Linked DNA regions of Homo sapiens: all the other regions are linked to region 2. The links come from fine-mapping of genetic effects on gene expression. A gene starts in region 2. Each other region holds a variant in brackets. All regions are shown on one strand. Distances are between the middles of the regions. Region 1 overlaps ABAT (4-aminobutyrate aminotransferase). Region 2 holds the start of ABAT (4-aminobutyrate aminotransferase). Region 3 overlaps ABAT (4-aminobutyrate aminotransferase). Region 4 overlaps PMM2 (phosphomannomutase 2).

Region 1 (8,299 bases), 110 kb after region 2:
AGCATCCACCAAGTGCCCAGCCCCAGGCTTAGGACTTAACATGTGAACCTTATCGTGCTAAAGTCTCACCACGGCCCCAGTGGGGTCAACAGCATTTAAATCCTTCAGTTTATAGCAGGGTAAACAGAGGCACTTGAGTGGCCCAAGGTTATACAGTGAGAGGGACAGAGCTGGGCTTGGTTGTTGTTGCTGGTGGTGGTGGTGGTGGTTTTTTTCCTCCACACAACACACATGTGCACAGCTGGGCTTTGAACCCAGGCCTGAATGTCCCCAGAGCTCTTAACCCCCTGGAGGTCCTGCCAGTCCATGCAGAGGCCGAGGCTGGACCATGGGAGGCCTTTGACGAAGCACAGCCATTAAGCCCAGCTGGTACACAGGTGATGGGCTTTGACGCCAGCCTTGTCTCCTCCCACTACAGGCCCGGTACCCCCAGTTCATCAGCAGGGTGAGAGGACGAGGCACCTTTTGCTCCTTCGATACTCCCGATGATTCCATACGGAATAAGCTCATTTTAATTGCCAGAAACAAAGGTAAGGGGTCAGGAGTGGCTGCTGAGTTTCATGAGCATCCAGTATCTCCTGCTGTAGCTGCCACATGTTGCTAGGTACTCAGCAATATTTTGTGTGGGGGGCAGGTGGTACACAGGTCTGAAAAGAGCCTGAATGCTCTTTCTCCAAAGAAGAGAACATTACAAATGGGATTTCTTTATCCATTTATTTACTCAACAAGCGTTCGCTGAGGAGGTGAGTTGTAAGTGGACACTGGAGACAGTTACAGTGATGATGAAGACCATCAGAGCCCCTTCCTTCAGGAAGCATGCAGTGTAGCAGGAAGGCATGGCTTTACACATGGCATTTCACAACCAATCCATTGCAATTTTAAGTCCTGGGAAGGAGAAAACGCAGCTAAGAGAGCAGATAGCTGCAGCAGTTGGTGAGGGTAGGAAATCAGGGCAGGCTCCCTTGAGGAAGTAGCATTTTACCCTAAGTCTTGACAAACAGGGATTGGCTGGGTGAAGAAGGTAAGGAAGAGCATTCTGGGCGGAGGGAAGGGTGCATGCGATGGCCTGAGGTGGGATGGAGCTTACAGAGGTGGTAAAAGGGAAAGAAGGGGGCGTGAAGGCGAACGGTTGGGAGGGGATGAAGCTGGGGGAGGAGAGGCCAGGCCCGGGTCGCATGGGCCTGCAGATCAGGCTTAGCACTCCAGACTTCATCCTAGGAGCTGTGGGAAGCCACTGAGGACATGTGTGGCAGGGGTAAGGGCAGACGCTGTGGTGAGATCAGAGCACGTACTCTATGTCAGGCACATTGTCAGTTCTTCTTGTGCCATCTTACAGAATCCTTGCAGCAGCCTCAGAAGGGCAGGGATAATCAACCTCCATTTTAAAAATGAGAAAACGTGGTCTCAAAGGCATAAACAGGCCGGGTGCAGTAGCTCACGCCTGTAATCCCAGCACTTTGGGAGGCCGACGTGGGCAGATCAGCTGAAGTCAGGAGTTCGAGACCAGCCTGGCCAACGGGGCAAAACCTCATCTCTACTGAAAATACAAAAATTAGCTGGCCGTGGTGGCGGCACCTGTGATCCCAGCTACTTGGGAGACTGAGGCAGGAGAATGGCTTGAACCTGGGAGGTGGAGGTTGCAGTGAGTGAGACTGGGTTGCCACTGCACCCCAGCCTGGGTGACAGCGCGAGACTCCATCTCTAAAAAAAAAAAAAAAAAAGGCATAAACAACCTCGACAAGGAAAGGACACCAGCTGTAACTGTGAAGTCACCCTTTAAAATAAGCAGAGCCTGTCCCTCCTCCGTAATAGCTCAGCACCTCACACATGCTTCCGACTCAGCCTGTGCTTTTGCAACTTATTTGCTTACCTATTTTCTTTTCCCACTCCTCCATGACTTTGTGGAAGGCAAGGACTTTATCTCAGGATTTCTCTATCACCAGACCTAGCTTGGGGCAGCAAAGCAGGCACTCAAAGGAGAGAGGGAGGGAGGAAGGGAAAAAGGAAGTGTGGAGGGAAGGAAAGGAAGAAGAGAATGATGGAGGAGATGAATGAGGGGAGAGAGAAAGGAAATGAAGACTGGATGGGTGGGTGGTAGGAAGGAAGCCCGGGCTTCCATGATGGAGGATGATGGATGGATGGATGGATGGATGGATGAGCGTTGCCAACAGGCATCACTTTCCCCCCAGCTCTCCCAGCATGTGACTTTGAGAAACCACGCTCCTCACCTACCTCCTGCCTCTTTCAGGTGTGGTGTTGGGTGGCTGTGGTGACAAATCCATTCGTTTCCGTCCCACGCTGGTCTTCAGGGATCACCACGCTCACCTGTTCCTCAATATTTTCAGTGACATCTTAGCAGACTTCAAGTAAAGAAGCCATTTCCACTACAGTGAGAAAGCCCGGATCCCAACAGTTGTCAAATTGATTAGTTTGCCTAATTCATGTTTTCACTTAAAAGTATCAGAGGTGAATGCACAGTGAAGGGTGATTTGTGGGGAGGGAGCATTTTTGGTGGTCTTGGGGGAGGGGAGGGGAGGGAAGGGCTGGTGTTGATTTTCCTCCCTGCAGAGCCAATGGTGCACATTGGTTTAAGCCCAGAGATCCTGCTTGAGCCCTGGACTCATCTTGGGAAGGGCCATGGGAGGTCCTGGCTAGAGTTCTGCCCAACCTTGACCAACCCCAGCAATTTTTCCAAAAGCCAGTCAAGGGCATTACATTTGTTCCTGGGACTGGCAGCTGGGCCTCCTGGGTGCCAGTCCATCTCAAGTGCCATATTCTGTGATCACGGATGTTGGCTCCCCCTCGCCCTATGCAAGCAAACACACTCTCACCTCCTCTCCCAGCCTCCCGGAGCTCTGAGCACGCCCCACGCATGGTGCAGGAGGGACTGGACAGATCTGAGGAAGGCCGTAAAATGGGGACAGGAGGATTCAGCTCAGGAGTAAGGGAAGAGGTCCTCTGGCCCCCTGAAGATGAGAATCACCCCTCTCAGTGCACCTGGGGATCCCCCTAAACTGTGAATTCTGCCCTGGACAGGGCTTTGCCCTTGGAGGATCCCCAGGTGGCCTTACCCGTGATTCTTACTCGGCATCCTCCATTCCCCAAACTCCCTCCTCCCTGTTAAATGTCAACCTAGACCTGGACCTGGGTGGGAGGAAACTGTAGCCTGAGTGTCCACAGGGACACACGTGAGCCACAGGGCTAGAAGCACAGGCCCGTCACCCCAGGAGGAAAAGCCCAGGGTCTGGGGCAGCAGAGCCATCGCATCATGTTTCCCAGGGCAACTTGAGGTCTGACTTTTGGCTCCCTCGCCCTAAGAGGCTCTTCCTCTCTTTTGCTCATCCACCTTCACACCACTTGTGAGCTGACCCCCAGGAACAGCTTGGCTGTTCCACCAGAGCAGAGGGAATCATTGCTGGACTGGATTTCTTCTGGAGGGAAGCACCATGAATTAAAGGTGCCAGAGCTCCATGCATGGAAAAGTGGCCTGTTGGTTCAACGTGGTTTCCTTGTACTTGATCCTCCTGAAATGAGAGATTTTCCTGAGATGACTGAGTATGGAGATTACCAGGCAGATGATACCGAAATGCTTAAAGGGGCTGTGGCTGAGGCTGTAGCATCTCTGCTGGAGGTGAGACACTCTGGGAACTGATTTGACCTCGAATGCTCCTAAAAGAGAACTTGATAGCCTGACAGCAGAGAAGTATTATTTGGTGGGGAGTCTGAGAAAGCCTGGCTTGTATTATCTGTCCAAAAGGAAGCCTCTTCATCTCCCGGTGCCTTGGTTGACTATTTTGGAAATAGGCATATCAAGGTTCCTGATTCAGCACTTTGCTCTTTTAATAACAAATCGTCCAAAGATCTCAAAGTAAGGGTTTTTTTTTTTAGCTTCCACTCTTCCGCAGACTTGGTCATCGACCTATTTTTGTTGAAGAATGAAAGGCAATGACAAGTTTAACATATACAAATTCGTGAATTCTTGTTCATTTTGCATTCCTGCAGTCAGTGCTAATCCGTCGTTCTTAATCAGGAGTTCTGCCAGGTTTAAGGTCACCTGCACTCCCAGCCAAGTGGTGATGTATGCCTCCCACTCTCTGCAAGGTTTTCCTCATTTTTATATTCATTTATTCATCATTCATTCATTCACCTAACTTTCATTAAATAGCTGCACCATCCCAGGCCCTGTGCGGAGCATCGGGAATACAAAGATGAGATAAAACATTGTCCCTGCCCCCGGGGGCTCACATGCCACTGGAAACAACAGACTCTTAAACTAACAATTCAAGCAGGCGCCAAGTGCTATGACAGAGGTGTGAATAAAAGCATCAGGAAATCGGATGGAGAACCACCATTCACCCAAGGGTCAGAGGAGGTTTCAAAGAAAAGGTGTCATTGGAGCAGTGTTTTGCAGAATGAGCCAGAGTTCACCAAGCAGGCAAGGCAAGGAAGGGTGTTGCAGAGAGGGAACAGCATATGCAAAGGCGTATCAGTTCATGGCATCACATCTTTCACTGGGGAAGCCAGTTTCCACAGGCAGCATCCCAAGGTTCAATAAGGCCTTATTTAACAAGCAAGCAAAATGCAAACCAAACCATTATTCATTTATTGGCTTAAGTATGCTTTCTCCTGAAAACTTTAGCATTGGGTGCAAATATTCAGTATGGTTCTCGGAGTCCAAAGGGTTTTAAGCCAGGGCACAACCAGAAAAGTGGCTCTCTTTGGTAGGGAGAGGGGCTCCAATATTTCGTTCTCTCCCCATGGGGCACTGACAGAGAAATGAAATAGTTTTATCTGGAAAATTCCAGAGCTATTATTTACTCCTTACCAAGGGAAGTTACTTCTTGTAAAAACTTTTAAGCCATTTATCAACAAGTTCTTGTTGACTCAGGGCATAATGAGTTCCTGAGACATGCTCTTTTGGGGGCTGGGGCTTTAG[C/G]TAGAAGAATTTCAAGGAAAAGAATTCTCAGCAGAGCTCAAGATTGTAGAAACTCAGCAGAAGCTGGTAAAAACATGGGGAGCCCGGAGGACAGGCTGCTGTCCAGGGCAGAGGCCATGAAGAAGTGCTTCCGTGGCCGACAGTCTGGAAATGAATCCATCATACATTAGTGCCATAGAGTTTAGTAACCGTCCAGCAAGTGTCATCACTTTTACAGAAAACAAGGTCCAGTAATAGCAAGTCTTAGTACATCCTCACTTTTATTATAAATGGGTGTTTTTTCATAATTTTTACTGACGCTCAGTAACCATGCAAAATTGTGTATAGCATTAATGTATCTACATACCTACACCTATCTATATATAAGCTCATGGTAGAAAACCATAGCTAAGTAGCATCGCAGACTTAAGCGTACAAAGTGATCTTGTTCACAAGTAATCTGTTGACAGTGCCAATAAATGATAAAAAAAAAATTAACATGTCACAATGTAACGGATGACCATATGCACAATTCCATGAATTAAATCTGTTTCCTGTGTTAGTCAGTATTCTTAAATAAAATTTATAATTGAAACATGAGTGAATGTGGACTTTTTTGGTGGAAATGGTCTTGTTAAATAATTAGGTGACAAGTACTTATTAAATGCCTGTTATATACCTCTTAGGGATGTCTTGGGGAACACTCTACATGCATAACTCTGCCTTGGGATCAGGAAGCACTGTAAGGCCATGCATTTCATTAAGTAAATCGAGGACATGCTATGTGACAGGGACACAAGGATGGACAACATGTGGTCCGTACTCGCAGCTCACATTCTTTTTTTTTTTTTTTTTGAGACAAGAGTCTAGTTCTTTCACCCAGGCTGGAGTGCAGTGACATGATCTCGGCTCACTGTGACCTCTGCCTCCCAGGTTCAAGCTGCCTCAGCCTCCCGAGTAGCTGGGATTACAGGCGCTCGCCACCGCGCCCAGCTAATTTTTGTATTTTTAGTAGAGACGAGGTTTCACTGTCTTGGCCAGGCTGGTCTCGAACTCCTGACCCTGTGATCCGCCCACCTCAGCCTCCCAAAGTGCTGGGATTACAGGCGTGAGCCACCACGCCCGGCCCCCCTTTTTTTTTTTTTTGGATGGAGTTTTGCTCGTTGCCCAGGCTGGAGTGAAATGGCACGATCTCGGCTCACTGCAACCTCCGCCTCCCAGGTTCAAGCAATTCTCTTGCCTCAGCCTCCCAAGTAGCTGGGATTACAGGCACCTGCCACCAGGCCCAGCTAATTTTTTGTATTTTTAGTAAATACAGGTTTCACCATGCTGGTCAGGCTGGTCTCGAACTCCTGACCTCAGGTGATCCGCCCACCTCAACCTCCCAAAGTGCTGGGATTACAGACGTGAGCCACTGCGCCTGGCCTCGCAGCTCACATTCTAGCAAGGTAAAGAAAAATAAAAAATAAAAATAAAAAAATAACCAAAAAAAAAAAAAACAGTGTAAGGAGCAGGACGTGGGAAAACACTGGATGCAGCAGAGGCACAAAGGCTGGGCCCCTCACATCAGTCAGGGTGGCAGTTAAGCCCCTGAGTTTCATCTTCAAGGCTGAGCAAAAGCTGCTCCAGAGTGATGGAAGGCATTCCACAAGAGAAGAGGTCCACGAAGGCACAGAGACAGGGCGACAGCAGGCGTCTATGAAAAGTTCAGTATCACTAGATCACAAAGAGTAGGAGACTAGAAGAGCCCAGAAAACAGGCAGGAGCTGGGCCCCTCGAGAGCCTTCTGTGCCACATGAGGGGCGTGGGCTTTCCATGCTGGTGATGGAGCCGCCAGAGGCTTGATGCAAGGGAGCAAACCGAGGGGTGTTTTAGAAAGATTGTCCTGGCTGGACGTGGTGGCTCACACCTATAATCCTAGCACTTTAGGAGGCTGAGCCAGGAGAATCACTTGAAGCTGGGAGGCGGAGGTTAAGATGAGCCAAGATCACGCCACTGTACTCCAGCCTGGGCGACAGAGTGAGACCCCGTTTCAAAAAATATATATAGAAAGGTTGTCCTGAGTGTTCACGGTGAAGAACAGGGAGGCAGGGAGGCCAGTTAGGAGTCTATTGCAGCCACGCTCACCTGGTGGCCTGAATGAATTAGGAAAATAATGGGGACGGAGAGAGAGAAAAGTAGAGAATCCAAAGCATCCGGGACGGTGATTCTCAACGCTGGACGCGCTTAGGAATCACCCGAAAGAGCTTTTTGAAAAGTGCCACTGGCCAGGCACAGTGGATCCCACCTGTAATCCCAGCACTTCAGCAGGCCGAAGTGGGCAGATCACCCAGCTAATTTTTTTGTATTTTTAGTAGAGATGCGGTTTCGCCATGTTGGCCAGGCTGGTCTCGAACTCCTAACCTCAGGTGATCCTCCCACCTTGGCCTCCCAAAGTGCTGGGATTACAGGCGGGAGCCACCGTGCCTGGCCATCAAAGGGTTACTGACCTTGAAGTTCCGGTGCCTTCAACTCACCTACCTTAGGAATGTGCATGTCGGAGCTCACACTCAACGCCGACCAGGTCAAGTTGACCTTCCAAGGCTGATGGCCAGGCTGGCCGAGAGAAAGTTCCTTGAGCGATTGACAGTTCCTACCCTCAGCTAGTCCTGAGTTGACTGCACACAAGTGCACATACACTCACATCTGTCCACATGCTAATATTACAGCATCCTTCCACATCAGTGTGTATCAAATCCTAACTTTCAAGTTGTGTGATTGGGAGCAGATTCCCTTAACCTCTCCAAGCTTCAATTTCCTCATCTTAAAAACAGGCATACAAGACTGGGTGTGGTAGCTCATGCCTGTAATCCCAGCACTTCAGGAGGCCAAAGCGGGTGAATTCGCCTGAGCTCAGGAGTTTGAGACCAGCTTGGGCAACACAGCAAGACCCTGTCTCTACTAAGAATAAAATTTTAAAATTTTTATTGGCATGGTGGCATGTGCCTATAATTCCAGCTACTTGGGAGGCTGGGGTGGGAGGATTGCCTGAGCCCAAGAGATTGAGGCTGCAGTGAACTATGATTGCACCACTGCACTCCAGCCTGGGCGACAGAGTGAGACCTTGTCTCGAAACAAAAAAAAGTATACAAATAGTAAGTCTTCACTTAATGTCACAGATAGGTTCTTGGAAATGGATGGCAGGTCCTCGAAAACATCATTTCATTCAAAGTTGTCTTGTTATAACATTGTTTCTTTCAACATCTTACTATTATGATGAGGAAAAAATATTGGTTTCATTGTATGTCGTTTAACTTATAATCAGTTTCCCAAAACTTACTGATGACATTAAATGAGGATTTACTGTACCTACCTCACCCGTCTGTTGTAAAAATTATAAAGCAC
Region 2 (8,299 bases):
AAAAAAAGAACGAATGAAAGAGAGAGAGAGAAAAAAAGAAAGAGAGAAAAAAATGAGAGAGAGAGAAAGAAAAGAAAGAAAGACAGAAAGAAAAAAAGAAAAGAGAAGAGAAAGGAAAAGAAAAAAAAAAAAAAAAGAAAAGAGCTTTCTTAGTTACACATTCATCTTCTTATACACTGTCTCCCAGCTGCAGAATGGAAGTTCCATGGGGTCAGGACCACAATCCCCAATGCCTGGCACGCAGTAGGTGCTAAATGTGTATTTGTTGACTGAACAAATTGATGGAAAAATTACTAAATGAATGAATGAGCTCTGGCCCACCTCTCACAATCAAGCAGATAGTTTGGTGAAACTAGTACAACTATGTACAGGGCTAATGCACAGTGCCCAGCAGGGACCAGGAGCAAACTTCCCTTACTTACCCAACCAATGACCTACTGTGGTACATACTTTTTTCCTTATTATGGTAAAATACACATTGCACAAAATTCACCAATTTTTACCATTTTAGAGTGTACAATTCAATGGCATTAAGTACAATCAAAATGCTTTTTTGTTGCTGTTGTTTTTGAGATGGAGTCTTGCTCTGTCACCCAGGCTAGGTGGAGTGCAATGGCACAACCTTGGCTCACTGCAACCTCTGCCTCCCAGGTTCAGGCAATCCTCCCACCTCTGCCTCTTAAGTAGCTGAGACCACAGCCACACACCACCACACCTGGTTAATTTTTGTATTTTTTCTAACAGTGGGGTTTTGCCAGGTTTCCCAGACTGGTCTCAAATTCCTGGGCTCAAGTGATCCGGCAGCCTTGGAGCTCCCAAAGTGCTAGGATTACAGGTGTGAGCCATTGCACCTGTTCCCCCTTCCCATGTTTTCTTCTAAGAATTTTATAGTGTTAGGTCTTATATTTATTTAGGTCTTTGATCCAATGTTGAGTTAGTTTTTTTATATGGTGTGAGGTAAGCGTCTATCTTCTTTCTTTTACATGTGAAAACGTGGTAGATACTTTATTCAATTTACAGATTAGAACATAGAGACTGAGAGGGAGTAAATGACATGTCCAGAGTCACATAGCCATTGGGAGTTGGAACTAGAATTCAATATTAGGTCTGACTCCCAAGTTGATCCCCTTTCCACCACATCAAAATGCCCTTTATTATTTTGTATAGATGATATCTCTTTATTATTTTGTGACCAGGGATGTGGAAATCACAGGCCTAGTCAATAAAATATGTGCTTTAATCTGGCTCTGGACAAGTTATTCCTCCTCTCTGGGCCTCAGTCTCCTCTTCTGTACAATGGGCTGCTGATCTCTAAGAGTCTCTCCTGTGGAGACAACTGGTACCCTTGGAGCCTCATTCACCCTTGCCTTTGTTTTCATTTCTCCTCTCCAGAGTGCAGTGGGGGCCCTCCCAGCTACAGCTGCGCTTCTGGAAGGAGCTTATTGATAGGCACAGAGTATGGGTGAGTCTTCATCCCAGGCCTCAGCCAAACTCTGGGAAACACTCTGCATTCCCTGGCAGACAGCTGCAACCCCAAGCAGCTCCATAGGAAAACTGCAGAATGGCAGAAAATGCAAGGGAAGCCAATATGGAAAGGGCTTTTTCCACATGCTGACAGTTTTCTTCACAAGTATCACAATGAAGCTATTTGAGAATCAGCTTGCAAAGCACCTGGCTCTAAATAGCCTTCTCTCCCTAGTCCTTAAGTAGAGACAAAGCAGCTCCTTTTATCCTCTAGAAGTGCCCTTTCCTAGGGCCTGACCCACAAATGGGTGCTCAAAACCTAGTTGAATGAATGAATGAACAGATGAATGAAGATGGCTACACACACTTCTTATTTCCCTTGATTGCCTTAGACCAGGACACGGCAGATTTTTCGCAAAGGGCTGGAAGGTAAATATTGTTGTCTTTTCAGGTCACAGAGTCTCTGTCACAGCTACTCAGCTCTGCTGTTGTAGCTCACAGACAGCCATAGACAATGCATAAATAAATAGGCCTGGCTGTGTTCCCATAAAATTTTATTTATGCACAGTAAAATTTGAATTTTATGTAGTTTCTATGTGTCACATAACATTATTCTTCTTGTGAATTTTTTTAACCATTTAATATGTAAAACCAATCTTAGCTCATGGTCATAGGAAAACATGATGAACTACATTTGGTCTATGAGCTATAGTTTGTCAACCTTTGGCTTAGACTCTTTTTTAAAAAAAAATTATTTATAAATAGAGATGGGGTTTCGCCATGTTGGCCAGGCTGGTCTCGAACCCCTGGCCTCAAGTGATCTGCCCGCCTCAGCCTCCCAGAATACTGGGATTACAGGTGTGAGCCACCACTCCGGGCCCTTTGGTTTAGACTTTTCCTTTCTGTTTTTCATTTTAAATATTTTCTTCTTAGTACCAGAGTAATATATATTCATTACAGAATAATTAGAAATTAGTGACATTGTAAAGTTTATCCTCTATTAAAAATAAACCCAAGGGGATAAAAAGAAATTACTGACATGGACATGCAAATAAAGTAATATTAGAATAATCTATAATTTCAATACACAAAAATAACCATTCTCCTACTGAACACAGTTTTTCACTCAGCATTGCTAGCTAGCTATATCGGTGCCTTTTAATATGATAGCCACTAGCTACCTGTTACTGTTACACCTTAAATTAAAATTAGATACAGGCTGGGCGTGGTGGTTCACACCTGTAATCCCAGCACTTTGGGAGGCTGAGGCAGGCAGATCACTGGAGGCCAGGAGTTTGAGACCAGCCTGGCCAACATGACGAAACCCTGTCTCTACTAAAAATTAAAAAATTAAACAACGAGCCAGGCGTGGTGGAGCACGCTTGTAATCCCAACTACTCAGGAGGCTTAGGCAGGAGAACCGCTTGAACCTGGGAGGCAGAGGTTGCAGCGAGCTGAGATCACACCACTGCACTCCAGCCTGGGTGACAGAGCGAGACTCCGTCTCTAAAAAAATAAATAAATAGATACAATTAAAATACAGTTATTCGGTTAACTAGTCATTGCTTTTTCCAAAATTTTAAATTTATTTTTCCCTTTTCCTTTTTTTATTATTTCTTTCTTTCTTTTTTTTTTTTAAACATCTTGGATACCAAAATTAGTCATTTCAGGTGTTCAATACCTCCATGTGGCTAGTGGCTACCACACGGGACGGCACAGATATAGAGCATCATAGAAAGTTATATTACACAGCATTGATCTAGCTCTACCTGGTAGATTTAACAAAAAGTAAGATGTTTAACAAAAAGTAAGACAGTACCAAATATACTGTTTTTGCAAATAACTTAACATTTTGAGATTTGTTTTGTTTTGTTTTTGAGACAGGGTCTCACTCTGTCACCCAGCTGGAGTACAGTGGTGTAATCTTGGCCCACAGCAGCCTCAACCTCCCAGGCTCAAGGCTGCCTCAGTCTCCTGAGTAGCTGGGACTACATGCATGCGCCACATCGCCCGGATAATTTTTGTATTTTTTGTAGAGACAGGGTTTCACTATGTTACCCAGGCTGGTCTTGAACTCCTTGGCTCAAGCGATCCTCTTGCCTTGGCTTCCCAAAGTGCTGGAATTACAGGCGTGTCACCACACCCAGCCCCATTCAATATTTCATACCTATGTTTATTGTTCAATTTCATGCAACAATTTCCCTCTGAGTCCCTGCTGTTGTGCATTCAAGTTGTTCCCAGTTTTTCCCTGTGATAAACAAAATGGTAGTAAGCTACTTTATCATTAAATCTTTGTACCTTTAAATGTTTTCAGATAAGTTCATAGGGATTGGATTGCTAGATCAAAGGGTCAACTTACTTTTAAGATTTTTAAAATAGAAATACCCAATTTCCCTCCAGAAAGGCTGTGATCTTTCTACTGCCATCATCAATACATGAAACTCCTTGAAGTCTTTGCAAAGAATAGTAATTATAATAATAAAAACAAGGTCATTTTGGTAGGTAAACTCTTTCCCTCTTTTGGTTTTAACTTGCCTTTCCTTTTCAAAGTGTCATCTCCCATGTTTATTGGCCGTTGTATTTCTTTGGGCAGGTCAAGGGTAGTAAAGGGGATTATGTTCATGGCTTTGGTTTTAAGAAAAAATTGCTAGATTTTCAGCACAGGCCTCATCAAGTTCCTCAAGCAAGGTGACAATCACCCAGGCTAGAGTGCAGTGGTGCCATCTCACCTCAGTGCAACCACTGCCTCTCCATTCAAGCGATTCTCATGTCTCAGCCTCCCAGGTAGCTGGGATTACAGGCAGGTGCCACCATGCCAGGCTAATTTTTGTATTTTTAATAGAAAGGGGGTTTCCCCATGATGGCCAGGCTGGTCTCGAGCTCTGGGCATCAAGTGATCTGCCTGCCTCGGCCTCCCAAAGTGCTGGAATTACAGGCGTAAGCCACTGTGCCAGGCCTCAATTATTCTTATTTACTGCTCTGTGTGTGTGTGTGTGTGTGTGTGTGTGTGTGTGTGTGTGTGTTGGGGGGGAGGGTCCCCAGAGGTGACACTAGGAGGTGAATGATTTGTTTGGCAGCTTTCTATTTATCTATGTGTTTACTTTATCTTAATTCTTTAATTGCAAGGACTATAGCGCTTGTGTAATCAGAGATAGGGCAGCCTGGATTCCTGGACAGCAGGAGGAGAGACCTCAGGGTTCTACAAGACTCCACAGACCAAGTTATCAGTGATCAGGGTGAGTGGGGAGAACCAAGCTGAACTCTTTCTCTGCCTTTAAGGTCTGTACTCTCCATCCATCCATTCATTCATTATGAGGACTTGGTGATCGCCTGTTGTCTTGATGAGCAGTTCTTTGTGTCTTTGATTTTGTCACTGAAAGATTGCATCCTCTTTCCAAATACCTCTAGAAAGCTGTGGGGGGGCTATCCATCCGTCACACCTGAGTATTAATTATCTTCCACACAGCATTTTATACAACGGTAGAAAGGCACCTTCATCATATCTAGGGTCTCGTTTATACCCACGAAGGAGGTACAATCTCTGTTGTCCCAATTTCAGGAAATTGAGGATCAGGAGGCGCAGTGACCTGCTCCAGGTCATGCAGAAGGAACCACCTCTGACTCCCAGCGCCCTGTTTGTCTTCCGGAGCGCTGGGGCCAGGCGGAGGAAAGTAGCTGGGAGCAAGAAGGGCTGGCAGGGCCCTGAGCGCCGAGATGGGGAGTGAGGTGGGGAGGGCGGGATGCTCCTTCCCTTCTCCGCAAAGGAACCCCTTCTGATTCCGACTCTGGAGCTCCAGAGACCGGATCCGAGACGCGGGTGGAGGTGGAGTTACACTCGCCTGCAGCCCTGAGGGTGTAAATGGCCCATTAAGATCCAGGTTAAATCAACCTATGGAGCTGCCCCCCAGAGGGTCAGGGTCCCCACAACTTGACGGGGGTCCTCAGCCGTCTCCTCCCCAGTCCCAGGACTCCCTCCCAGCCCTCGCGGTCCCTCTGGTGGGTCCCGCCCCAGCCCCCGTCTCCCCCGCCCCCGGAGGCTGGACTCTGCCCCCGCCCCGCCTGCCACCTCCCTCCTGGGGGCGGTGGCCCGTGGCGGGCGCACCCATTGGCTGTGGCGAAAGCGAGGGCCGGGGCTGGCGGCGCTGATTGGCCGGGACGCTCGGCGGAGCCAGGGAGTCCGGCGAGTCGCTGGGGGAAGTCGAGCAGACACCCAGCGCTGCCGGAACTCGGGGCGCGCATCCCGCAAGTCGGAACCCGGCGGATCGGATCCCGCAGATCGGAGACGGGGCCTGGAGGTGAGCGCGAGGCGCCGGGTGGCTTGGGACGGGCCCTTCCGAGGGGAGCCGAGAGGAGGTCCTTCTGCCCTGCCCCCAGGAGCAAAACCTGGGCATCTTCTCCTGGAAACGGAGCCCTCATCTTCCCAAGACGCGGGGCCCTCCCCCGAAAAGACAGGGGCTCCCACCCCCCAGAGAGCAAAATACCTTCCTTTCTCCTTCAGAAATGGGCCCTTCCTCCTGGCTCCAGCTCTAGACAGAAGTCCTCTCCCTTTTACCGCTTGAAATAGAATGCGGCCCCAAAAAGTGGTCTCCAGGTCTCTAGAGCCCCCTCACCTCTTGGGAGACTGATGCCCCTTCCCCATCCTTAGAAAACTAAGTTTGGGTGTCTTCCTTCTCCCCTCTCTTTCGGAATAATGGGGGTCTTCTCAGCTTATAAATTACAGTGACCTCCCCCTCCATGACAAATGGAAGCTCTCCCCCCATCATAAGACAAGGAAATCCCGGAGCAGAGACTCTGCAAGTCACCCTCCCACCCCAGATACTGGGCTCTGGAGAGATAGATGATTCACCCTTAGCCCTGCCGGAGACCCCTCCCTACCCGTCAGAGAGGCAGGGTGGCCTCTGACACCACCACATTAAAGGCTTTTGGGGATTTCCCCTCTCCTCCCCAGTAAAGATGTAAAATGAGGGACCTTCATACTCAGGAGCAGGGCAAAGGTCTGGCCACCCCTCCAAGTCATCCACCTCCCTCCACTCCACCCAAGCCCTTTCACACAAACCCCATCCTAGTAACCCCCTGCACCATCCTCCCACCGCTCCCAATCCCATCCTTCTCCACCTCACCCCAACTCCACTCCCACACCTGGCTGCCCCACCTATTTCACATCCTCTCACCTTTCCTCACCCACCCTGGCCAAGGTAAGACTAGAGGGGGTTCAGCGAGATTTAGTAAGACTGGAGCTCTTAAAACTGGGATCTGGGGCCTAGAGGCCCTTCCAGGAGTCTTCAAACTCTGACAACAGAGATGGCCTCTGAGGCAGCAGGACCAGCAGAGACCACCCGCCACCTCTCCCCCGCTCCCTGCCCCAACACACGCACAAAGGCTGTGTTCAATGCATTCTCTCTTGCAGTCTGGGAGGACAGCTGGCCCTCTTCCAAGAGGGCCCGCATTTCCCCCCTAAAGTGTGCACCCCCGCAAGCGCCTGTGGACATTGCCTGGTGGAATTCCCTGGGCACTCAGCCAAGAGAAATGGGTGCTGCTGGGCCCATCCACTGGGGAGGAGACAGTGTTGGCTTTGCTGCTTTGATGAAGCTAGACTAAGGGACAGGATGTTGGTGACCTGGGGGTGGGGAGGGGGTGGGAAGAGCTCTTCTCTGGTGGGTCAGGTTGGGAGGCAGGAGAGAGGGAGGCAGTGAGTTGTGTCTTGCTCTTTGGAGCCTGTGTTGCGGCGTGGAGTCATAGAGAAATGTGTTTTCTCGAGGCCCAAAGAGGTTAGCCACGGGGAGAGGTAAATGGTCCAGTCTGGAGTCCTAAGACCTAAAAGGGCTTCTGCATTAAAGACGTGGCCCCTTCATTTGACAGTTAAACACACAGAGGCACAAAAGGGGAAGAGACTTGCTCAAGGTCACCCAGCCTGTGGGAGACAGCTGGCCCCAACCCCTCCAGGACCCTTAAGGTGCTAGGATCCCTGACACAAGCCCCAGTCCTCACATTTACAATGGGGACTTGGGGACTGCTGGGTCCCAAGTCCCCACTTGTCAGAGGAAGCGCCAAGGCTCTGCAAAGGTCATGAAGCCAGGAAGGGGCAGAGCTGGAACTCAATGCCATCCCCCAGCAGGCTGCCTCGTGGAATCCATTCCTGGGTGTCAGCGCATCCCTGCTTACCCCGTGCGATCTTTGTGTTGAGGCCATTGCCAAATCTAGGCTTGCCAAAATCCAAACTGACCCAGGATAGCTAATAAGATCAGTTGCAGCTAATGAGAATGAGATGCTGGAGTGGAGGCTACTGCAGGAACCTCACTTGCATAGCTGGGTTTGCTCCAAGAACTTTGGACAGGTCCTGAGGATGTCATATTCCTTCCCTCCAAGGTCCCCTCCCTCTTAGCCCCTGCCCACGCCCTCTGGCTTTGAGTTCCCTGCACATTGTCTCATCTCTGTTCAGAGGCCTGCGTCTTTTCTCCTGGGGCATTGCATGGGAAAAGAGCTGAAATTCTGGCAGATTCTCTAGGACCACCCAGCTGGGCAGCATGGTCTGAAGTAGAGGCTCTCTCTGTTTCTGCCCCCACCCAGTTCCCAGCTAAAGGATTGGTTGTTGTGCCCCAACTTTGCCAAGGCGAAGTTCAAAGCATGAGGAGGACCACGGTAGAGAGGCCGAGAGGTTGGTCCCTGGAGACCTCTTATCTGGGTCGAGAGCACAAATCTGCCACTTAGTGTCTGATCTTAACCTCTCTGTGACATATCCTTGGGGTAAAATGAGTTAATCCTCATAAAATGTTTAGCACACAGCAAAATGAGCAGAAACAATGATTACAAGTGCAAAGTCATAAAACCTCTAATC
Region 3 (8,299 bases), 56 kb after region 2:
AAAAAAAAAAAAAAAAAAACAATGGCAATCTTGGGGTCACACAGCCTGTAGCAGGTGGAAATTGAAGAATAAGTCTGTGTGATCAGAGTGTGTCATTACTCTACACACACTTCTTTGGTCCTCTCCCTTCCCATCTACAAAAGACAGCCAACTCCAATATCTCTTTTTTCTTTTTTTTTTTTTTGAGATGGAGTCTCACTCTGTTGCCCAGGCTGGAGTGCAGTGGCGCCATCTCGGCTCACCGCAACCTCCGCCTCCCGGGTCCAAGCGATTCTCCCGCCTCAGCCTCCAAAGTAGCTGGGATTACAGGCGCCTGCCACCACGCCCGGCTAATTTTGTATTTTTAGTAAAGACGGGGTTTCTCCATGTTGGTCGGGCTGGTCTCGAATTCCTGACCTCAGGTGATCTACCCGTCTCGGCCTCCCAAAGTGCTACGATTATAGGCGTGAGCCAGCGCGCCTGGCTTTTTCATTTTTATTAAGATAAACATAACATTAACCTTTTTAAGTGAAAACTCAGACCCTTTTAGAACATCCACAATGCTGTGCAGCCACCACCGCTATCTAATTCCAGATTTTTTTCATCACCCCGGAGACCCCCGTACCCATTAAGCAGTCATCTCTCATTCCTCCCAGGCCCCTGCCAACCCCTGATTTATTTTCTGTCTTTGTAGATTCACCTACTCTTGAAGGTTCCTATAAATGGATTCGTAGACTATGGGGCATTTTACCTCTGCATTCATTCATATAGCATAAAAAATATTTTGAGATTTATCCATGTTGTAGCATGTGTCAGAACTTCATTCCTTTTTATGACTGAATAATATTTCGTTGTAAGGATAGACCATGTTTTGTTTATTCATTCATCCACTGATCGACATCTGGGCTTTTTCTACCTTTCGGCGCTTGTGAATAGTGCTGCTATGTGTATTTGTTTGAGTCTCTGTTTTCAGTTCTTTGGGTTGATGCAAAGGTCATTTCCTTTTGCACCAACCTAGTACTTAGGGGTGGAATTGCTGGGTCATGTAGTAGTAATTCTATGCTTAACTTTTTGAGGAACTTGTAATTCTTAAAAGGCCATGCCAACTCTAGGACTGAGGGTTTAAGAGCTAATCCCTGCCTTCTTACTCCTCATCAACTCCCACCCCAGTGGGTGCCCTCCAACACACCTGCCTCGAGAACCCCCTCCCCAGCTCAGTGACCCCAGCATCTCATTGACATGCTGAGTGCATGCTCCCTGCCCCTCCCTGGGAGCCTGCCTAAACACAGACCCTTCTATTCTTTCTAATTTTTTTTGTACCCATTAACTATCCACCTCCCATTCAACCCGCCACTACCCTTCCCAGCCTCTGGTAACCATCCTTCTACTCTCTATGCCCGTGACTTCAATTGATTTGATTTTTAGATCCCACAAATAAGTGAGAACACATGCCACTTGTCTTTGTGTGCCTGGCTTATTTCACTTAACATGATGATCTCCAGTTCCATCCACGTTGTTGCAAATGACTAGATCTTTTTTTTTTTTTTTTGAGATGGAGTCTCGATCTGTTGCCCAGGCTGGAGTGCAGTGGCGCCATCTCGGCTCACTGCAACCTCTGCCTCCCGGGTTCAAGCGATTCTCCTGCCTCAGCCTCCCTAGTAACTGGGACTACAGGCATGGGTCACCACACCCAGATGATTTTTGTTTTTTGTAGAGATGGGGTTTAGCCATGTTCGCCAGGCTGGCCTCATGGGATCCACCTGCCTCAGCCTCCCAAAGTGCTGGGATTACAGGTGTGAGCCACTGCGCTGAATAGTACTCCATTGCGTGTATGAACCACATTTTCTTTATCCATTCATCTGTTATTGGACACTCAGGTTGCTTCCAAATCTTAGCTATTGTAAGCAATGCTGCAACAAACATAGGAGTGCAGATATCTCTTCGATATACTGAGTTCCTTCCTTTTGTGTATTTACCCAGCAGTGGGATTCCTGGATCATATGGTAGCTCAATTTTTAGTTTTTTGAGGAACCTCCAACTGTTCTCCATAGTGGTTGTACTAGTTTACATTCCCACTAACAATGTACAAGGGTTCCCTTTGCTCCACATCCTCTCCAGCATTTGTTATTGCCTGTCTTTTGGATATAAGCCATGTTAACTGGGGTGAGATGACAGCTCTTTGTAGTTTTGATTTGCCTTCTCTGATGATCAGTGATGTCAAGCACCTTTTCATGTGCTTGCTTGCCATTTGTATGTCTTCTTTTGAGAAATATCTATTCAAATCTTTTGTCCATTTTTTGATCGAATTATGAGATTTTTTTCTATAGAGTTGTTTGACCTCCTTTTTATATTCTGGTTATTAATCCCTTGTGAGAGGAGTAGTTTGTAAATATTTTCTCTTGTTCTGTGGGTTGCCTCTTCGCTTTGTTGGTTGTATCCTTTGCTGGAGGACAGACCCTTCTGGATGCAACTAGAGCAGCTGGGCTCCCTCCTCCCTTTGAGAGGGTCTCCAGAGGGCCCTATCAATCAAGATCAGCCTAGAAATTGTTGCTCGAGTTGGCTCCAGATGACCGCACCTTCACCTTCCCTCCAAGTGCTCTATGATTTCTTACCACACCCACTCTCACTGTGCACCAGGATCCTTAGCTACTCCGTGTCATCATACACCTCCGAGCACTTGCCTTATCCCTGCTTTCTTCATTGCCTTCTGAAATCGCCTAACTTTTGAAGATGCAGCTCAGGCAACACCTCCCTGACATTGTCACCCCAGCCAGAAAGAATCTCCCCGTATTCCCTTAGCACTTCACTCACACCAGCAAAATAGTTGTGATTCTGTTCTATCTTATGCAGAATTTGTTGTTGACAGTGAACTGGAAAATTTTTATGTACATATCATGCTGAGTTATTTTAAGAAAGTATTCACATGATGGGTAAAGCAGCCTAGTACATTAAATTCTTCCATTTTCTTTCCGCTCATAGTTCTCTGCCACTAAATTATGAGCTTCAGAAAGAAAGCAATTTATCCATCTTGGTTTCTCCTAAGAGAAGTGATGACTTGGCCAGGAGCGGTGGCTCATGCCTGTAATCCCAACCGTTTGGGAGTCCAAGATGGTAGGATCACTTGAGCTCAAGAGTTTGAGACCAGCCTGGGCAAAATAGCAAGACCTCATCTCTACTAAAAATTTAAAAAAATTAGCCAGGCATGATGGCACATGCCTGTAGTCCCAGCTACTTGGACGGCTGAGATGGGAAGATTGCTAGAGCCCGGGCGATAGAGGCTGCAGTGAGCCCTGATCGCCCCACTGCACTCCAGCCTGGGCGACAGAGTGAGACCCTGTCAGAGAGAGAGAGAGAGAGAGATTGATTATATCTAAACGATGCAGTGCCTTGCTGATAACAGGTGCCTAATTAACTTGTGTTGATTGAATTAGTGGATGAGAGGGAGTGAATGAATGACGTTAACTCTTCCAATTGTTTGAAATATATTGTGCTAAGAATTAATGTCTAACAGAGATCAGATTTTGTTATAAGGTCAATTTTCAACTGCAGGCCACCAAAATGTCACCACGGTATATTTTCCAATGTGACATTTTGTAATTGAAAACGTGTGGGATTGGCTCTCACTTTTGCAGAATATTCAAATGTTGAGTTCTCTGAGACATTCGGAGTTTCAAAAACGTGTTTAATGGAAATTGAATTGTGTGACGCCTCAGTGCTCCCTGTTTCAGACAAGTGGTTTTAAGGGAAAGACATGAACTGCACTTTCTACACAGTTACTCTGTTGCTAAATTAATAGGCTTGCATTGAGTCGGATATCCTGGAATAGAAAAAAAAAATCCATTGAGTTATTAAGAAAAGAGTTTGGGCCATGCACAGTGGCTCACACCTGTAATTCCAGCACTTTGGGAGGCAGAGGCGGGTGGATCACAAGGTCAGGAGATTGAGAACCTTCTGGCCAACATGGTAAAACCTCATTTCTACTAAAAATACACAAATTAGCCAGGTGTGGTGGCACATGCCTATAATCCCAGCTACTCGGGAGGCTGAGGCAGGAGAATCGCTTGAACCAGGGAGTCAGAGGTTGCAGTGAGCCGAGATCACGCCACTGTACTCCAGCCTGGCAACAGAACAAGACTCCATCTCAAAAACAAAGAGTTTGGTTTCTCAGTTAATTCATGGCCACACTTTCCAAGCCCACACTTTCTCAGAAAGTTTCCTCTGGTGAAAAGCAATAAAATTTATTCTGTGAACTACGTCATTTTTATTCATGAAGCCTCATATCAACAATAGCTAGGGGCCGGGCACGGTGGCTCACGCCTGTAATCTCAGCACGTTGGGAGGCCAAGGCAGGCAGATTACTTGAGCTCAGGAGTTCAAGACCATCCTTCACAACGTGAGAAAAAC[C/A]TGGCTCTACTGAAAAAAAAAAAAATTAGCTGGGCGTGGCGGCGTTCGCCTGTAGTTCCAGGTACTTGGGAGGTGGCAGGATGGCCTGACCCTGGGGGAGGCAGAGGTTGCAGTAAGCTAAGATTACACCACTGCTCTCCAGCCTGAGTGACAGAGCCAGACCCTGTCTCAACAAAAACAAAAACAGCTAGGAGTTTTGTTATTAGCTGGATTAACTGATGTTACAATGCATAGAGGCAGGGGCTTTGGGGTCAGACAGTCTCAGGTAAGCCTATGACTGAGGCCGAATGTCATAACCTCTCTGAGCCTCCCTTTTATCATCTCTGAACAGGGAGATTACCCTACTCCTATAGATGTTTGAGCAAAGAGAAGGGAGTAATGTACCCTTCAGAATGTCTCACAAAGACCAGGCACCATGCCTCATGCCTATAATCCCAGCACTTCAGGAGCCAAGATGGGAGGATCATTTGAGCACAGGAGTTTGAGACCAGCCTGGGCAACACAGCGAGACCCCTGTCTCTAAAAAATATATATATTTAAAAATTAGCTGGGTATGGTGGTGCATGCCTGTAGTCCCAGCTACTTGGCAGGGCTAAGGTGGGAGGATCTCTTGAGCCCAGGAGTTCAAGGCTGCAGTGAGCAATGATCACGCCACTGCTCTCTAGTCTTTCTTTTGTCTAGCCCTTTTTTGTCTTAAAAAAAAAAAAAAAAAAGACCCTGTTTGAATGCTGGATCATCTCAGTGGGTAGAGAGTGTCAGGACTCTGGCCCAGCCCTGTCTAGTCAACCATGGCCAGTAGGGCCAGGTCTATGCCCCCGCAGAGGAATGGGGAAGTATCTGAGAAGGGGGAGGAAGGAAGTGCAGAGCAGACACCCCAGAAGATACTTCCTGCACCAACCCCACCCCACCCGTGATAGTACCTCAGTTGCCTGAAGACAGGATAATGACCTGTCTCTGTCTTCTAGGAGCTGCCTCCTAGGGCTCTGGGGATGAAACGAGATGGTTCTACAGCACCAGCTGAGAGCCTGCACATAGCAAGTGCCCAGTACTTGATGATGCTTAGAGGGTAAGGACGGCCTCTAATTGATCTTTATGTGCCCTAGTGCCCAGTGAAGGGTCTGGCACACGGTAGGTGTACCATGAATGTTCGTAGCACAAATGCATCAATGGCAACCGCCTCCCTCCTTCATTCACTCTTTCCTTCTAATAATACAGCCAACATTCTATTAGCTCTGTGGGCAGCCACAGCGTGCTGGAACTCGCCATCCTGGGCTCGGTGCCTGATTCTCCACACTATTCCTGCCCTGTGCTGCTGAGCCCACGTGTTTCCCAGCACCTGAACCTGTACTCTGAACCCGCCTGTCATTCCTCCTTGCCCTGTTCTCTCTCCTTGGATACAGGCCTCCCCTCCAGCTGTGGGATCTCTCTAGGTCTGTATTTATCACCTCTGGTTGGCACTTCCTATATGCTGTCATCACAGAAGCAGGGGGTGGGAGAAGCCTCTTGGTCTTCATCCAGGTCTAGGATGGAATTTCTGTCCACTGTGGGGCTGGGTAGAGTTAGGCAGCCCAAGCCAGGGCTGCATGAGGAAAGGGCTGCGTCCCCAGGGTCTGTCACAGAGTAAGTTTCAGGTGTTGCAACTCGCAATAAATCCATGCATTAGGCACAAGCCAGGACTCCTGAGCCAGATATCTCTCAACCCCAACGCTGGCTCCACCAGCAACTTGCTGTGTCCTGGGTAAACCACATGGCTTCTTTTAAAAAAAATAGTTTTACTTTGTTTACTGTCCAAAGTACTCATTAATTGTTTATTTATCAAGAGAAACTATTTCTAATTTTTTGTGTGTGAGACGGTGTCTCACTCTATCACCCAGACTGGAGTGCGGTGGTGTGATCTTGGCTCACTGCCATCTCCGCCTCCCAGGTTCAAGCGATTCTTGTGCCTCAGACTCCTGAGTAGCTGGGATTACAGGCGTGCACCACCACACCCAGCTAATTTTTGTATTTTTAGTAGAGACAGGGTTTTACTGTGTTGGCCATGCTGATCTCGAACTCCTGACCTCAAGTGATCCACCTGCCTTGGCCTCCCAAAATTCCGGGATTACAGGAGTGAGCCACCCTGCCAGCCCAAAGAGAAACTATTTCTTAGCCCCCATATTCATGTTTCATAGTTCAGGAACACAGGTCAGTGATAAACTTCTAGGTAACTCAACCCAAAGAAATTCTTTATATTCCAAAATCACTTTGCACTCTGAACAATAACAGCCATCCTCATCGCTTCTACATATGCCTTGTTTCTTGGTTCAGCCACAGCAAACTTATAGAGAGCTGCAACTCTCAGGGATACAATGACTGCTCCAACAATGTGAAATGGCAGACTCTGGACCAGAAGGCCACACACCTGAGTTTTGTCAAAGCACTGGAAGCCGTGGTAGTTGTCTAGTTGTCCTTGATAGGTATGTCAACCTCAACACCAATGTCTTTCCTGGATCACTTTTCTTTTTTTTTTTTTAATTGTTATTTTAAAAATCACACAGATAACATAAAATTTACCATCTTCACCATTTTCAAGTATACAGTACGGTATTATAAGCACTTTTGTTGTATAGTGAAGCTCCAGAACTACTTCATCCTGCAAACTGAAACTCCAAACACACTAAACAATGTCCTTTTTTCCCTTCCCCCAGCCCTCGGCAACCTCTTTTTCCTCTTTTTCTGTTTCTCTTTTTTTCCTCCTTGAAACAGAGTCTCGCCCTGTCGCCCAGGCTGGAGTGCAGTGGTGCGATCTCAGCTCACTGTAACCTCTGCCTCCCGAGTTGAAGTGATTCTCCTGCCTCAGCCTCCCAAGTAGCTGGGATTACAGGAGCTCACAACCACGCCCGGGTAATTTTTTATGTTTGGTAGAGACGGGGTTTCACTATGTTGGCCAGGCTGGTCTTGAACACCTGACCTCAAGTGATCCACCCATCTCGGCCTCCCAAAGTGCTGGGATTAGAGGCATGAGTCACCATGCCCAGACCCTCTATCTGTTTCTAGGAGGTTGACTACTTTAGGTTTTTTTTGTTTTTTTTTTTTGTTTGTTTGTTTTTTTAATTTATTTATTTTTTATTGATAATTCTTGGGTGTTTCTCACAGAGGGGGATTTGGCAGGGTCATAGGACAATAGTGGAGGGAAGGTCGGCAGATAAACAAGTGAACAAAGGTCTCTGGTTTTCCTAGGCAGAGGACCCTGCGGCCTTCCGCAGTGTTTGTGTCCCTGGGTACTTGAGATTAGGGAGTGGTGATGACTCTTAACGAGCCTGCTGCCTTCAAGCATCTGTTTAACAAAGCACATCTTGCACCGCCCTTAATCCATTTAACCCTGAGTGGACACAGCACATGTTTCAGAGAGCACGGGGTTGGGGGTAAGGTCACAGATCAACAGGATCCCAAGGCAGAAGAAGTTTTCTTAGCACAGAACAAAATGAAAAGTCTCCCATGTCTACTTCTTTCTACACAGACACGGCAACCATCCGATTTCTCAATCTTTTCCCCACCTTTCCCGCCTTTCTATTCCACAAAACCGCCATTGTCATCCTGGCCCGTTCTCAATGAGCTGTCGGGCACACCTCCCAGACGGGGTGGTGGCCGGGCAGAGGGGCTCCTCACTTCCCAGTAGGGGCGGCCGGGCAGAGGCGCCCCTCACCTCCCGGACGGGGCGGCTGGCCGGGCAGAGGGGCTCCTCACTTCCCAGTAGGGGAGGCCGGGCAGAGGCGCCCCTCACCTCCGGACGGGGCGGCTGGCCGGGCGGGGGGCTGACCCCCCTACCTCCCTCCCGGACGGGGCGGCTGGCCGGGCGGGGGGCTGATGCCCCCACCTCCCTCCCGGACGGGGCGGCTGGCCTGGCAGGGGGCTGATCCCCCCACCTCCCTCCCGG
Region 4 (6,482 bases), 170 kb after region 2:
GGGTGCATGATTGGTTGCCAAGGAGGGAGTAGAGGTATCTTATACTTGTGGGTTAAGGTTGGGGGATACAAGAGGAGGACACAAAGGAGGCTTTGGATTGGGAAGAAGGGCGGCAATGAGATGTAGCTGTAGTTCAGGAATACTCAGGGAAGCAGATAATTTAAAGTGTCTCGGCCTAATAAGGGAACTGGGCAGGTGGGGATAACTGAAAAGGAGTGCTTAAAAGAGTAATGTCTAAATTGGCACCAGAGTTGGGGAGTTTTAAGAGGTTTAGAAGCCTGGCCGTCAATACCCACAACAGTTACGGAGGCAAGGGAAACAGGCCCTTGAAAAGAAGGTAATGTGGAGTGGGTAGCCTCCGTATTGATTAAGAAGGGGATGGACTTACCCTCCACTGTGAGAGTTACCCGATGCTCGGCGTCCGTGATGGTTTATGGGGCTTCCGAGGGGATTGGGCAGTGTCAGTCTTCAGCTGCTAAGCCGAGATCTGGGAAGGAGTCAGAGAGCCTTGGGCCAGAGTTCCAGGGGCTCTGGGGAGTGGCTGCCAGGTGAGTTGAACAGTCTGATTTTCATGGGGTCCCGCACAGATGGGACGCGGCTTAGGAGGAATCCCGGGCTGTGGGCATTCCTTGGCCCAGTGGCCAGATTTCCAGCACGTGTAGCAAGCTCCTGGGGGAGGAGGTTCTGGAGGAACGCCTGGCTGCTGCGGTTCAGGCGTTTGGAAGTTCTTGTGTGCTGGAGATGTGGCTGGGGTTTGTCTCACAGTGGAGGCAAGGAATTGCCACTTTTTTCTATTACTGTCCACCTTGAAGGTGAGGTTAGTTAAGTCCTGTTATGGGGTTTGAGGGCCAGATTCTAATTTTTGGAGTTTTATTTAATGTCGGGAGCAGATTGGGTAATAAAATGTATATTGAGAATAAGACGGCCTTTTGACCTTTTAGGGTCTAGGGCTGTAAAGCGTGTCAGGGTTGCTGCCAAACGAGCCATGAACTGGGCTGGATTTTTATATTTGATGAAAAAGAACCTAAACGCTATCTGATTTGGGATAAAGAAAAAGGAGCATTAACTTTGACTATGCCTTTAGCTCCAGCCACCTTTTCAAGAGTAAATTGCTGGGCAGGTGGGGGAGGGCCAGTCACAGAATGAACTGTAAGCTGGTCCAGGTGTGAGGAGGGGAGGTGATAAAAGGATTATAGGGTGGAGGAGCGGAGGCTGAGGAAGAATTGGAACCTAGCTCAGCCTGGCGAGGAGGAGAGGTCAGATGGGTCTGTAGAAAAGGAATATTAGAAAGACTCAGCGACGCTTGGGGTTGCGACTGAGGGGACAGGTGGGAGGGAAAGAAGGAAGATTTGGGACGAGTTGCACTGGGCACAGAGACTAGGAAGGGACTGATGTGTAAAAGAATGCCTGGACATCAGGCACCTCAGACCGTTTGCCCATTTTACGACAAGAATTATTTAGATCTTGTAGGATGGAAAAACTGAAAGTGCCGTTTTCTGGCTATTTGGAACTACTGTCGAGTTTGTATTGGGGTCAAGTGGAATTGCAGAAGAAAATAAGGCATTTATTTAGGTTTTAGGTCAGGTGTGAGTTGAAGAGGTTTTAAGTTCTTAAGAACACAGGCTAAGGGAGAAGAAAGGAATGGAAGGTGGAAGCTTGCCCATAGTGAAGGAGGTAAGCCCAGAGAAAAGAGTAGAGACACGGAGAAGGGGTGGGGGGTTCTTGCCCTCCAGAAAAGCAGAGAAGGGGTTGGGGCACGGAAATAAGGGATTGGGGCACAGAGATATAAGAGATTGGGGCGCAGAAATAAGGGATCGGGGCGCAGAGATACATGGGGTTGGGGTACTTACCCCTCCCCTAGAAAAGCAGAGAAGGGGTAGAGACACGGAGAGAAGGGGTTGGTGTACTTGCCTCTCCGCCAGAAAAGTGGGACTTGCCGCTAAGGGTGAAGGACCAAGGCAGGCGTCCCTGCATGGTCTGACACCTTTGAAACGTGGGTAAATAATCAGGCGTCCCTGCAGTGATTAAACACCAAGGGAAGGCTGCCTTCCCAGTCTCTGACCGGCGCCGGAGTTTTGAGTCCACAGATAAAATGTGTCTCCTTTGTCTCTACCAGAAAATGAAAGGAATTGAAATTAAGGGAGAGATTGAAGTGTTTCATGCGCGTCCGTGTGAAGAGACCACCAAACAGGCTTTGTGTGAGCAACATGGCTGTTTATTTCACCTGGGTGCAGGCGGGCTGAGTCCGAAAAGAGAGTCAGCAAAGGGTGGTGGATTATCATTAGTTCTTATGGGTTTTGGGATAGGCGGTGAAGTTAAGAGCAATGTTTTGTGGGCAGGAGTGGATCTCACAAAGTACATTCTCAAGAGTGGGGAGAATTACAAAGAACCTTCTTAAGGGTGGGGGAGATTACAAAGTACATTGATCAGTTCGGGTGGGGCAGAAACAAATCACAATGGTGGAATGTCATCAGCTAAGGCTATTTTTACTTCTTTTGTGGATCTTCATTTACTTCAGGCCATCTGGATGTA[T/C]ACGTGCAAGTCATAGGGGATGCGATGGCTTGGCTTGGGCTCAGAGGCCTGACATTCCTGCCTTCTTATGTTAATAAGAAAAATAAAATAGTGTTGAAGTATTGGGGCGGTGAAAATTTTTGGGGGGTGGTATGGAGACAGAATGGGCGATGTTTCTCAGGGCTGCTTCAAGCGGGATTAGGGGCGGCGTGGGAACCTAGAGTGGGAGAGATTAAGCTGAAGGGAGGTCTTGTGGTAAGGGGTGATATTGTGGGGATGTTAGAAGAAACATTTGTTGTATAGAATGATTGGTGATGGTCTGGATACAGTTTTGGATGAATTGAGAAACTAAACAGAAGATCCAAGGTCCAAATAAAAGAAGGAGAAAAATGGGTATTAAAGGACTAAGAATTGGGAGGACCTAGGACATCCAATTAGAGAGTGCGTAAGGGGGTTCAGCGTAATTACTTGCTTGGTTGGCAAGTTTTTGGGCTCTATGCTTGAGTTTTTTTATGTTGTCATACATCAGGCCAGATTGATTTAGGTAAAAACAACACTCTTCATTTAAGAATATGCAGAGTCCTCTTTTTTCAACAGTGAGTAAGCAAGGCCTCGGTGGTTTTGGAGGACAACTGCAGCTAAAGAGTCAACTTGGGCCTGGAGGACTGATAAAGTTTGTGACATGTCTGTGATGCTAGCAGAGAAGTCATTAGACAGGCTACGGAAGGTCATGACAGAGGTTGAAATGCCTGCTATTCCAGTACCGAGAGCAATAGTGGAGGCAGAAAGTCCTAAACCGACCATCAAGGGAATTAGTGGAATGACTCTTCTTTGTTGTGTCGGTGTCATGAGGGGAACAGGGAGCTCTTCGTTCCTATTTGCAAATTGAATTTTGGGAGTAAGGAAGACTAGTGTGCATGTGCCTGTCCAATTAGCAGGTAGACACATGTTAGGTAAAGGATCCACAGAGGAAGAAGAGACCTTGTGCGAGGCAAAACTGGAGATGTAAAGTAAAAAGATGAGGAGTGCTGCAAGGGGTGTCTTGTACCTAGAGTCCTAGGGATCCAGCTAGGGCGGCAGCTGTCAGAGGTTGTAATGGGGACTGATGGGGTAACTGCATAGAGGGGGAGGTTCGATTTTCATGGTGTATGAGAAAACGTTGAGTATCTACAAGCAACCTTTCACTATTATTTTCGGGGCTGGGTAAAAGTAAACAAGAGGAGGGCCTGGGAGGAAGAGTCTGATGAGCAAGGGGAAAGTAGCCAAGGATGGAGTGAAATACAGGGCAAGTGTCTTCCTAAGCAATAATTACTGCTAATGTTTTTAAGTTTGTCAGTATTGATAGCGGGCTTGTCTGTAATATGGAGCTGGAAGGCTCCCATTGTTTGAGTGATGTGTGTAGTTGGACTTTGGAGATGAAGAGTAAAGGAACATCGAGAAGGTGAAAGATTACCTAGGGGAATTCCAGTGGGTCTTTGCCGAGAGATACATATAGGAGCGGCCACAGGCATAGTAGTTTGTGTTGTGAGAGGTCCGAATATGGGGGGAGAAAGGAGAAAGGAGAAAGGTTTTTTAAATAAGTGTGAAGGAGGGCGGCAGCTTGCTGATGTGAAATGTCTGGGGAAGTCTTGCTGGACCTGTCTAGAAAGTAAATGAGTTCTTCAGGAGGGTAAAGGTGAGGGCTGTTACAGGAAGTTCGGAGGTGTAGGGAGATGGGAGATGTTGCCCAGTCTGTCTGTAAGGTGGGGACAGCTGTGTAGGCACTGGAAGAAAGGGAAATGCAAAGCCAGCAGTTGTTCACTAAGGAGGGATTAGAAGCGGCTAGGAGAGAATGGGTAAGGTTGATAGTGTGGTGGAGATAGCTGGGGAGAGGTAGAGGGTGGCATAAGAATGGGAATGAGAATAAGAGTGAGTATAAAAGTAAAGAATAGAACTTCATCAGGGTGGAAATATTGGAGGGTGCCTTGCCAGCAAAGATCATCTATCCACTCTAAGAGGGAGTTAAGAGTGGCAGTTTGGGGATAGCACCAAGAGATATCAGCTGTGATGGCTTGAAGAAACAGTGTAAACCGGCCGTGTAAACAAGAGTAGGGCATTTATAAGTAGTTGAGAATGGAGAATAGGAGTATGACCAGACAGAAGATAGTAGGGATGACTAGTTTTTTGGGGCTCGGCCTAAGTGGTGGGGGTGACTTCGTAAAGCCCTGTTGCAAAAAGTAGGGTAAGGACGAAAAACCTAATAGAATGAAGGGATGTATTAGGCTCATAAGGGTTATGACTGTTCTTCGAAATACGACTGAGTTTAAGGGAAGTAGGGGAGAGTACTTGCAACTTCCAGGAGGAAGAGGAGGGATTAGGCTGGCTGTCCGATGGACACAGCTTTATTCTGGAACGGTGAGCCTAGTGGGGAGGATCCTGCAGGCGGACAGCAGTCGGGGTACTATAGATGACTAAGTAGGGTCCGGTCCATCGAGGTTGTAGAGTTTGAGGAGTCAGATTAACAAGAACTGATCGTCCAGCTAGGGTGTCTTCATATGGCTGGGGATCTGGAGTAGGCAAGAGAAGCTTAGCAGCCTGGCGAATTTCCTGTCTAGCCTGCTGGAGGACTGGAAGACAGTCGCCTAGAGGGCTGGTGTCTGGGATGAGGTTGGGGCCAAGCAAGAAAGTGCGTCCATATAAAAGTTCAAATGGACTGTACCTACCCTGTAGCATCTCGAGAACAGGCTCTAATTCTGAGAAGAGCAAGAAGTAAAAGTACTGTCCAATCCTTTTTAAGTTGGAGGCTGAGCTTGGTGATGTGTACCTTTAAAAGACCATTAGTCCGTTCTACCTTTCCTGAAGATTGAGGACTGTAAGGGATATGAAGGTTCCACTGAATACTAAGAGCCTGAGAAACTGCTTGGGTGATTTGACTAGTAAAGGCTGGTCCGTTATCAGACTGTATAGAGGTGGGAAGGCTAAACTGAGGAATTATGTCTGACAGAAGGGAAGAAATGACTGCGGTGGCCTTCTCAGACCCTGTAGGAAAGGCCTCTACTTATCTAGTGAAAGTGTCTACTTAGACTAAGAGGTATTTTAGTTATCTGACTCGGGGCATGTTGAGTGAAGCTAATTTGCCAGTCCTGGGTGGGGGCAAATCTTCAAGCTTGATGTGTAGGGAAGGGAAGGGGCCTGAATAATCCCTGAGGAGTAGTAGAATAGCAGATGGAACACTGAGAAGTTATTTCCTTGAGGATAGATTTCCACGATGGAAAGGAAATGAGAGGTTCTAAGAGGCGGGCTAGTGGCTTGTACTATAGCATAGCCTGCCTTTGCTGCTATGTGGCGATTAGGCCTGGTGGAACCGCCATCAATAAATCAAGCGTGATCAGGGTGAGGAACAGGAAAGAAGGAAATATGGGGAAATGGGGTGAATGTCAGGTGGATCAGAGAAACACAGTCATGGGGGTCAGGTGTGGTATCAGGAATAATGTGGGAGGCCAGATTGAGGTCCGGGCCAGGAACAATGGTAATTGTGGGACTTAACAAAGAGTGAGTACAGCTGAAGGAGCCGGGGAGCAGAAAGTATATGCATCAGGTATGAGGAAGAAAATGGATTTTGGAAGTTATGAGAAATGTAGAGAGTGAGTTGAGCATAGTTTGTGATTTTTACGGCCTCTAAAAGTATTAAAGCAGCGGCAGCCGCTGCACGCAGACATGAGGGCTAGGCTAAAACAGTAAGGTCAAGTTGTTTGGACAGAAAGGCTACAGGGTGTGGTCCTGGCTGTTGTGTAAGAATTCTGACCGCACTAACCATGCCTAGGAAGGAAGGGAGTTGTTGTTTTGGAAGGGATTGAGGTTTGGGAGATTAATCAGACAAGATCAACAGGCAGAGCACGTGTGTTTTTATGAGAATTATGCCGAGATAGGTAACAGATGAGGATGAAATTTGAGCTTTGGAGGGGGATACCTGATATCCTTTGGAGAGTAAA

The links. PIP is the estimated chance that this variant, and not a neighbour inherited with it, causes the effect.
Region 1: its variant is the best candidate, but not a certain one, in a credible set for the expression of ABAT in whole blood (TOPMed, PIP 0.90).
Region 3: its variant is the best candidate, but not a certain one, in a credible set for the expression of ABAT in whole blood (INTERVAL, PIP 0.64).
Region 4: its variant is the best candidate, but not a certain one, in a credible set for the expression of ABAT in fibroblasts (GTEx, PIP 0.69).

The regions. Positions count from the first base shown.
Region 1 is chr16:8,779,061-8,787,359 of GRCh38, forward strand. It overlaps ABAT (4-aminobutyrate aminotransferase), which reads left to right. Exons shown (of 16, transcript NM_020686.6): 15 at 419-530; 16 at 2,249-5,510. The coding sequence ends at 2,370. Among named protein-coding and RNA genes, the nearest start is that of TMEM186, 14 kb to the right of the region's middle. The variant C/G (reference allele first, on the strand shown) is at 4,937.
Region 2 is chr16:8,668,953-8,677,251 of GRCh38, forward strand. It overlaps ABAT (4-aminobutyrate aminotransferase), which reads left to right and starts at 5,665. Exons shown (of 16, transcript NM_020686.6): 1 at 5,665-5,759. RefSeq lists enhancers at 4,662-5,163, 5,164-5,663 and a silencer at 5,258-5,717.
Region 3 is chr16:8,724,751-8,733,049 of GRCh38, forward strand. All of the region lies in intron 1 of ABAT (4-aminobutyrate aminotransferase), which reads left to right. Among named protein-coding and RNA genes, the nearest start is that of ABAT, 54 kb to the left of the region's middle. RefSeq lists a silencer at 2,415-2,643 and an enhancer at 7,304-7,889. The variant C/A (reference allele first, on the strand shown) is at 4,384.
Region 4 is chr16:8,835,815-8,842,296 of GRCh38, forward strand. The region is part of intron 7 of PMM2 (phosphomannomutase 2); the gene reads left to right. Among named protein-coding and RNA genes, the nearest start is that of CARHSP1, 30 kb to the right of the region's middle. RefSeq lists enhancers at 103-637, 638-1,170. The variant T/C (reference allele first, on the strand shown) is at 2,533.